2 linked regions of the Homo sapiens genome follow. The protein of the gene in region 2 interacts with the protein of the main gene of each other region in a pairwise test. Each region holds a gene or a part of one and is shown on either strand. Other genes may lie near its edges.

Region 1 (3,913 bases), on a different chromosome or scaffold from region 2:
ACTTCTAAAAAATTTCAAAGAAAACTTTTGTTAGATTCCAGTTATTTTAAGGATTTTGTACATTTATAATATTCAAACACCAAAAAGCATGAGAGTACTAATACAAAGAAAATAAATATTATTCTATAACAGTTTTTTTTTCTTTTTTTTTTTTTTTGAGATAGAGTTTCGCTCTGTTGCCCAGGCTGGAGTGCAGTGGCGTGATCTTTGCTCACTGCAACCTCCACCTCCCGGGTTCAAGCGATTGTCCTGCCTCAGCCTCCCAAGTAGCTGGGATTAGAGGTGCCCGCCACCACACCCAGCTAATTTTTGTATTTTTAGTAGAGACAGGGTTTTGCCATGTTGGCCAGGCTGGTCTTGAACTCCTGACCTCAAGTCATCCGCCTGCCTTGGCCTCCCAAAGTGCTAGGATTACAGGTGTAAGCCAACATACCCGGCCTATAACACAGTTTTAAAACATAAACTAAGGCATTTATATAAATAACATGCCCAGTTCATAGAACTATATTAGTATAATTATAGTAGTTACAATTTACTATTTTAGTTATATTACTAGTTACAATTAGCTGTAATTTAGAAACCTTTTCCTTCTTAAATTTTATTTTTAAAACGTAATATTAGTGCATCCTACCTTTGCCCTGTGATAGCTAGATCACCACTGTATGCTGCTTACATGTAATTGTGAAACATGACCATATCATTTGTAAAACACTTCAACTGAAAATAATTAAGTGCAAATCAGTTTTATAACTACGAAAATAATTAAGTGCAAATCAGTTTTATAACTACTAAAACTGTTTAATAAAAGTGTTATGTAAACGGCAATAAGATGTGAATATTATTGATTAATATTATGTTCATAAATGTTCTTAAATTTTAAGTTGAAATATACAAAAATCTCAGGGTTCTAAAGACAGTCTTTTGGTACCCTATGTTCAAAATAGCTCTGAACCAAGAAAAACACACATGCAGATCTCTGCAGGTGCTGCCACTCCACCAGGGCATCCAGCATCCAGTCAAACACCAGATTTATGTAATTTACATGATGCGAAGTCTCAGAAAGGGCAAATCTAGAGACTTATGTGGTTGTCGAACAAGAGACATCATTCTCAGGTTAAATTAGTACTTCTAATGAGAACTGCCCTTCTAGCATCATGCCAGACCAGATAATCCATGACACCTACATACACATCTTAAATGCCTAGAAATGTTGAAGAAAATATAACCAACATTCTTTAAAATGCATAGCAAAATCTGTAAGGGGAATTCCCAGAGCCCAGAATTAAAAACCAAAAATTATAGTAAGCGCAACAAGCTGAGACTGCACCTGCCATGGGTGGGGTTTTGGGAAGAGGGAAGGGAGTAAAAGATGGTACTCAGTCTTAATAAAGTGGAGGTTTGGGTTTTGATGCCCTCATGGAAAAAGAAGATGAAATCTTAGGCCTGTATGTTGCAAGAATTTAGAATTGAGCGCCCTTATATCAATTAGGAAACTCGAATGGCTAGTCTTTCAGTAAATGCATGGACTTGAAAAGATATGCCTTATGACAGAGATAGCAAAGAAACTTACCAAAGAAAGCGTGGGCTCTAGAATGAGAAGAGAAATGTTTTTCCTGAGAATTCTAAATCCTAGATACATATACTGTGTAAACACTAGCTAACAAAAACAGCTTAAATGACTATATTATCAGATCAAAATATGTTTAAGGGAAAAAGCATTGTTAGAAACAAAGAACGTTACTGATAAAATAAACAACTCATCAAGAAAACAGTAACAATTCTGAATGTGCTGTATCTAACAATATAGCCAAAAGTATACAAAGTAAAAATGTGCAAAATTATAAGGAGAAAATGACATAGCTATAATCAAAGAGGGACATTTTCACCACAGTAACTGATAGGTCAACCAGACTAAAGATTAGTAAGGATATTGGAGATCTGAACAATTGGATAAACAAAATCAAGGGAGTGAATGAAGACACAATCCTACACTTAATGATTAAGGAACATTTAAGAAACATTTGTAAAAACTGATCCCATGCTAAGCCACAAAAGAAGCTTTACATATTTCAAAGAATTGACATTATTAAGACCATAATGTAAAGTCAGAATCTACATATAAAAGATCCCCCTATCATATGTTTGGAAACTGAAAAACTCATTTTCAAATAATTCTTGGATCAAAGAAAAAAATCAGTTACTATTATTGCTGAATGACAATGAAAATATTGGGTTGCCAATATCAAAATTTTGTGACTCAGCTAAAACAGTTGTAAAAGAGAAATCTACAGTTTCAAACACATACATTAGGAAGGAAGACAGATATTTAATGAGTTAAGTGTCCAACTCAGGAAGGTAGTAAAAGAACAACAGAGTAAACTCCATGAAAGAAGAAATAAAGACACTAGCCTAAGTTAATGAAACAGAGACTATCTCGTGATATTAAAATTTCTCTGGAGAAGGCAGAGTGCCTATCCCTTTAAGTGCTAAATGAAAAGATAAAATATTTTTACGATCCCAATTTAACCAATGAGTGGCTTACATAATATTGATAATTAACCCTCAAAACAACTCAATAGGGAAAATAATATTATTGGCAACCACTTGAAAAATGATGAAACTAAGGCAAAGGGAGGTTAAAGAACTGGCTCAAGATCCCACAAGTGGTAAGTGGAAGCCAGAATTTGAACACAATTGTGCTGATCCAAAAGCCTACGGTTTGTCTCTCAGCATCAATGCCTCTGTTCTTTCGTTAAAAATTTATAATTCTGGGATAATTGTAGATTCATGTACAGTTGTAAGAAATAAAGAGATCCCATGTATTTTTCACTCAATTTTCCCCAATGAAAACATCCTGTATAACTACAGTATACTGCAGGAAACTGACATTAATACAGTCCACTGACCTTTTCCAGTTTCATTTTTATGTGCACTCATGCATATTAAGTATATTTAGTTCTATGTAATTTTATCACATGTATAGATTTGTGTGAATACCACCAGTCAACACACAAACAACTCTATCACAAACATTCTTCATGGTACCCTGCGATAGCCATAGTTGCCTTCTCCCTTTACTTCAATTCCTGGCAACTACAACTCTGTCCTCATCTCCACAACTTTGTCATTTCAAGAACGCTATATAAATGGAATCGTATAGTAGGTAACCAATTGAAATTGGTTCTTTTCACTCTGCACAATTCCCTTAAGATCCATCCAAGCTGTTGCACGTGTCAATAATTTGTTCCTTTCTTACTGATGAGTAGTATTCCACGGCATAGATGTGGTAGAATAGGCAGATAAACAGACATGAGGAGGAGAAGGGCTGCCCTGAGAAAAGGAGTCTGGAAAATCTCATGCCCCAGGGATCACCCCAAACAGGCGTGCTAGATATGAACAGACAGGAGGGGAAATACCTAGGCAGAAAGGAATCCCCCTTAAGACCCCAGTGATTGCTCACTCTGCCAGTTAACCTGCCAGAATGTAGCTAGATGCATGCTAAAGGGAAGAGGGCAAAGGAGAAAATTCCTAAGAGATACGCAGAAGCAATTTGTGTCCAACATCGGGTTCACGCGTGCACACCAATAGTAAGGGAGGGTCCCACAACCTTGGGGCGGGAACTAGGTGAGGGAAAAGGCAGGGACTTAAGGCAGATGCAGAAAACTAAACAAAGTAAAAAGGCGGAGACTTAAGAAAGAGGCAGGAACTTCAAGAAAAAATCTGAAATCATAAAAACCCACCACTCTCGGGGTGCTGCTGGCTCACTCTCTTTCAGCAGCTCGCCCTGCCTCATCTTTTCAGAGTGTACTGTCTCTCTAGATAAACTCCCTACTCTGTATTTTCCTTCAATGAATTCTCTTTCTCTGGCTAAACCAGTAGCTTGGCAGAATTCTTTCTCCAAATAAGACTAAGA
Region 2 (3,913 bases):
CCCAGGAGCTGGGGATACAGCCCTAGTCATATCAACATCCCTGGGCCATCCTCGCTGTCCAGGGTCTCTCTTCTATTCAAGGATGTGCCCAGGTCGGTAGCAGTATCCTGTTTCCCTTGTCCTGGCCCTTCCAGCTGCAGAAAGTGGACAGCGGGTTTCACACCCAGCCCTGCTGCACACGCTCCAGCTTCCTGGAGACCCGAGCCAGGTTTCTCCCAGCAGCACCTCTCCATCCCAGAGATGGCACCATATTCAAACTGAGGTACCAGTGGCACTGACCCCCAACAACAGAGAGGACCCAGCTTCACACTTGATCCAGCAGGGGCCCAACCACATGGTGAGATGACTTCCTCCGTGAGAGAATTCCTGGGGTCCCTCACCTCCTTCAGGCACAGCTGGCTATAAAGAAAAGGGGTGAAAGGCCCAGTACATCTCCCTGAGTCCTTTCTCCTGGGCCAGGTGGCTCAGGTGCTGCGGGATCACCCAGGGAAGGCTCATTCCTCTCGCTACAAGACGCTGACTGCGGATCAGGTGGGGAGCACGGTGGATGGTCTTCTTGTATCCTCTATCGCCTCCAGGGCATCTTGTTTCTAAACTCCCAGGGAGTCCCCTCATCTTCTACTCCACTACTCCACCAAAAAAAGGAAAATCTAAACCCTCCCTCCCCTTAAAACACATTCCGTCTCAGGAATTTAATTTCAGTGTACGTTTCTTAGAGCTAAAACTTTTTTTAAGGGGAAAAGAAATGGGCAGGGCAGTGCTGGGTGTAAGGCGACCACGCGACCGAGAAAAGGAAGAGGGAGGAATGAATAAACGCTGACACCAGCCCCCCTTGGAGCTCAGAGCCTGGGGCACAGGAGCCGGCGGGGCGGGCGAGCAGGGGCGGGGACAGCGCATTCCCAACTTTCCCTGGCCGAGCTGACGGGAGATACAGCTCCCAGGGGACCGGGAGGGACCAAAAAAGGCTGAGCCGACCTGTGACATCGGCGGGGGGCAGGAAGCGAAGCTCCCCTCCCCCTGAAAGGCGCTCGGCTCCCAGCAGGCGCCCCCGCCTGCCGTCGCCGCCCAGCCTGCGCCCCCAGGCCCGGGCACTGCGGGGAGGGGCGCCCACACAAAAGGGGGAGCGGCGGGAGAGGGGACTCGGGCGAAGCCGGCTCCGGGAGGCCTCGTCTCCCTTCCCTGCGGCGCTGGCCCGCGCCCCCCGGTCTAATCGCGCGCCCCGCTCCCGGCCCCCCAGATGCCCGCACGCCCCCCGCGCCCGGGGCCCGGGATGAGGTGGGGGCTCGGGAAGGAAGGGCGGGCGGGGACCTGCCGCACGCGGAGCTCCCGGGGAGCCGCGCCGACAGCCCCGGGAATCAAACTCGCGACGGCCCGGCCCTCCCGGCGGCGCCTGGGCAACGGGTCCCGAGAAGGTGGGGCCGCTGGGCCGGGGCCGCGGCCGGGATTGCGCGCGGGGCGCCGGCGAGGACCGCGCCCGGGGCCGGGCGGGAGCCGCGGGAGCGCGGGGGTCTTACCGGGCAGCGCCACGCGCGTCCGCTCCGCGCGGGCCGCAGGGGCCGGGCCGCGGGCCGGGCGGGGGAGGGGCTGCAATCCGCAGCGGTGGCGGCGGGGCCAGGCTCGGCGGCGGCGGCGCGGCTGGGGCGCGGGGAGGCGGAGAAAGTGAGGCGAGGCCGGCTTCCTAGCGGCGGGCGGCGAGAAATGCAGCTGTCCCTGCGCGGCTGCCGGCAGGGCCACAAGTGGGGCCGCGCGGGGAGGAGCGGGGCTGCGGGCGGGGCGGGGCGGGGGCCCGGCTGCGGCGCCCCCGGGCCCTTTCCCTATGGCCGACCCCTTTCCAGAGAGGAGGGAAGCGGACCTGGGGGTCCGGAAACCTACATGGTTGCCGGGGGTGGAGAGGGGAGCACCCAGTGAAGGCTGGAAAAATGCCCTCCGTGTACCTCCCTCCCCGGCCGCAGTGACTCCCTAGCTTGCGGGCAGGAGGGCGTGAGCGGGGTGCCTCGACCTCCCGCGCAGAGCGGGGTGCGGGGCATCCTGCCCCTCCCAGCTGCGGAGAGGGTGGGCGGAGGAGACCTGAGACCTCCGAGACTCCGCGGGGAGCTAAGAGCAGGGCTGCCCGACAGGTTCCAGGTCAGTGCCAGGAACCCAGGGTGAGGACGCACAGCTGGGGCTTGGGACACAGGTGTGGAGGAGGGGCACCTCCCTGGAATTAGGGCCCCGGAAAGGAAACCAAATCAAATGCTGAGGACACAGGAGATGGTGGGAAGGGGGAGCAAATCAAAGCTATCACTCGTCCACACCGACAGATACCACCTGCCATCTCCCATTTTCTCCTCCCCCAACCTCCCCAGCATCCCTGATCACTTCAAGGGCTGCTGAGCCCTGGGAAGATTTTCCACGGAAGAACTTGTTTAATAAATGGGAAACTGACCTTTGCTATACTTTTCCCACGTGCTTTCATTTCAGACTCCAATTTGGGAGTAGGTAGCCTAGGTCAGGTGGTGACCACCAAGCACCCTGCTACCTAGGGGATCTGAGGAGGGTGAAGAAGGCCAGATGCAAACTAAGCTCTGTCCCCAAACAACTTGCAAAGGGTCTGCACCCTCCTCCTGGAAAAGTCTGCCTTACAGACCCATTTGCCCATCTGGGCCCAGAACCCCAGGAATAGCCCCCCTCTCCCCTCCTCTGAGCGCTTGCAATTTGCTAGCCTTGCTGAGACAGATCGACACGCTCAGCCTCAGAGACAGCTGATGGTAAAAACCACAAACCAAAGTGCCCCAGACACCAATGTGTTTCCATCATTTGCATGTCAAGGGCAAGTTTCTTCAGCAAGGTGGGAAACTGGGAGGGGGAGAAACCTCAGAACCACACCCTCCTCGGGGAGGCCCAACGTTAGGTTAGCATGTTGAACGGAACTCCAGGACTGGGTTTCCAAACCCCTCTGAGGATCTCCTCTCTCCTGCTCCTCTCTCCCCACACTTCACTCCCTGGTGCATTCAATTTCCGGGGGAGGCAGGGTGCTTGAAATCCCAGAAGATGGTCTTCAGGCCCCAGGTTAAAGATTCTTAATCCGAAGGGACAGACCCATGCCTCTATACTGACTCCTGGCTCCTTTCCCAGGTTGTAACTGAGAGCTCAGGATTTGTCCGCCTGGCCAATATAGTCTAGATTATGTTATCAAGTGTATTACCTTACACTTACCCATAGTGCAGTTCATTTGTCACTTTCCTGCTTACTTGCAAGATCCCTCTGCAGTTCATTCCTGTCACCTTGGCATTTCAGGAGCAGAAAAATGCATCTGCAAACCTGGAGATTTCCATTTGCACTCGCCTATGGATTGCTCATAATTTTTTTTTTTTTGAGACGGAGTTTCGCTCTGTCACCCAGGCTGGAGTGCAGTGGCACGATCTCAACTCACTGCAACCTCCGCCTCCCAGGTTCAAGCAATTCTCCTGCCTACGCCTCCTGAGTAGCTGGGGTTACAGGTGGGTGCCACCACGCCCGGCTAGTAAAATTTTTAAATACATTATTATTATAGTCATTAATAAAACCAGTTGCTCTAATGGACACTCTTCCTTGAAGCACACTTTTCTTGGGCTTTGCTAACATACTCCTCCTTTTGGGTCTGTCCTTCTGGAAGCTTTTTCTCAGACCCCTTCCCTGCCTCTCACAACTTCCCCACCCCCAGACACCTCCACCCACTCCCACCACTGCCTCTGAGCCCCCAGGGCTCCAGCCCCTCACACCAGCCGCCTACAGAGGGCCACCTGTGAGTCTCCCAGACACCTAAAACTCAAGGAGGCTAAAGGCGACTGAGACCGCTTCCCTACCTAAGCCACCTCCTCCTACTCTCCTGAATCCACCTCTGGCTCAGAGGCTGGAAGCCTCTGTCTCCTGTGCAGCTTCCCTGGCCCTCCAC

The links.
Region 1: the proteins of CUEDC1 (region 2) and UBE2E2 interact in binary tests that used the Homo sapiens proteins (3 or more experiments, as listed by UniProt).

The regions. Positions count from the first base shown.
Region 1 is NC_000003.12:23,528,306-23,532,218, reverse strand, and holds part of UBE2E2 (ubiquitin-conjugating enzyme E2 E2), read right to left. Parts: intron 1-3,913.
Region 2 is NC_000017.11:57,953,711-57,957,623, forward strand, and holds the start of CUEDC1 (CUE domain-containing protein 1), read right to left. Parts: upstream 1,703-3,913; 5' UTR 1,515-1,702; intron 1-1,514.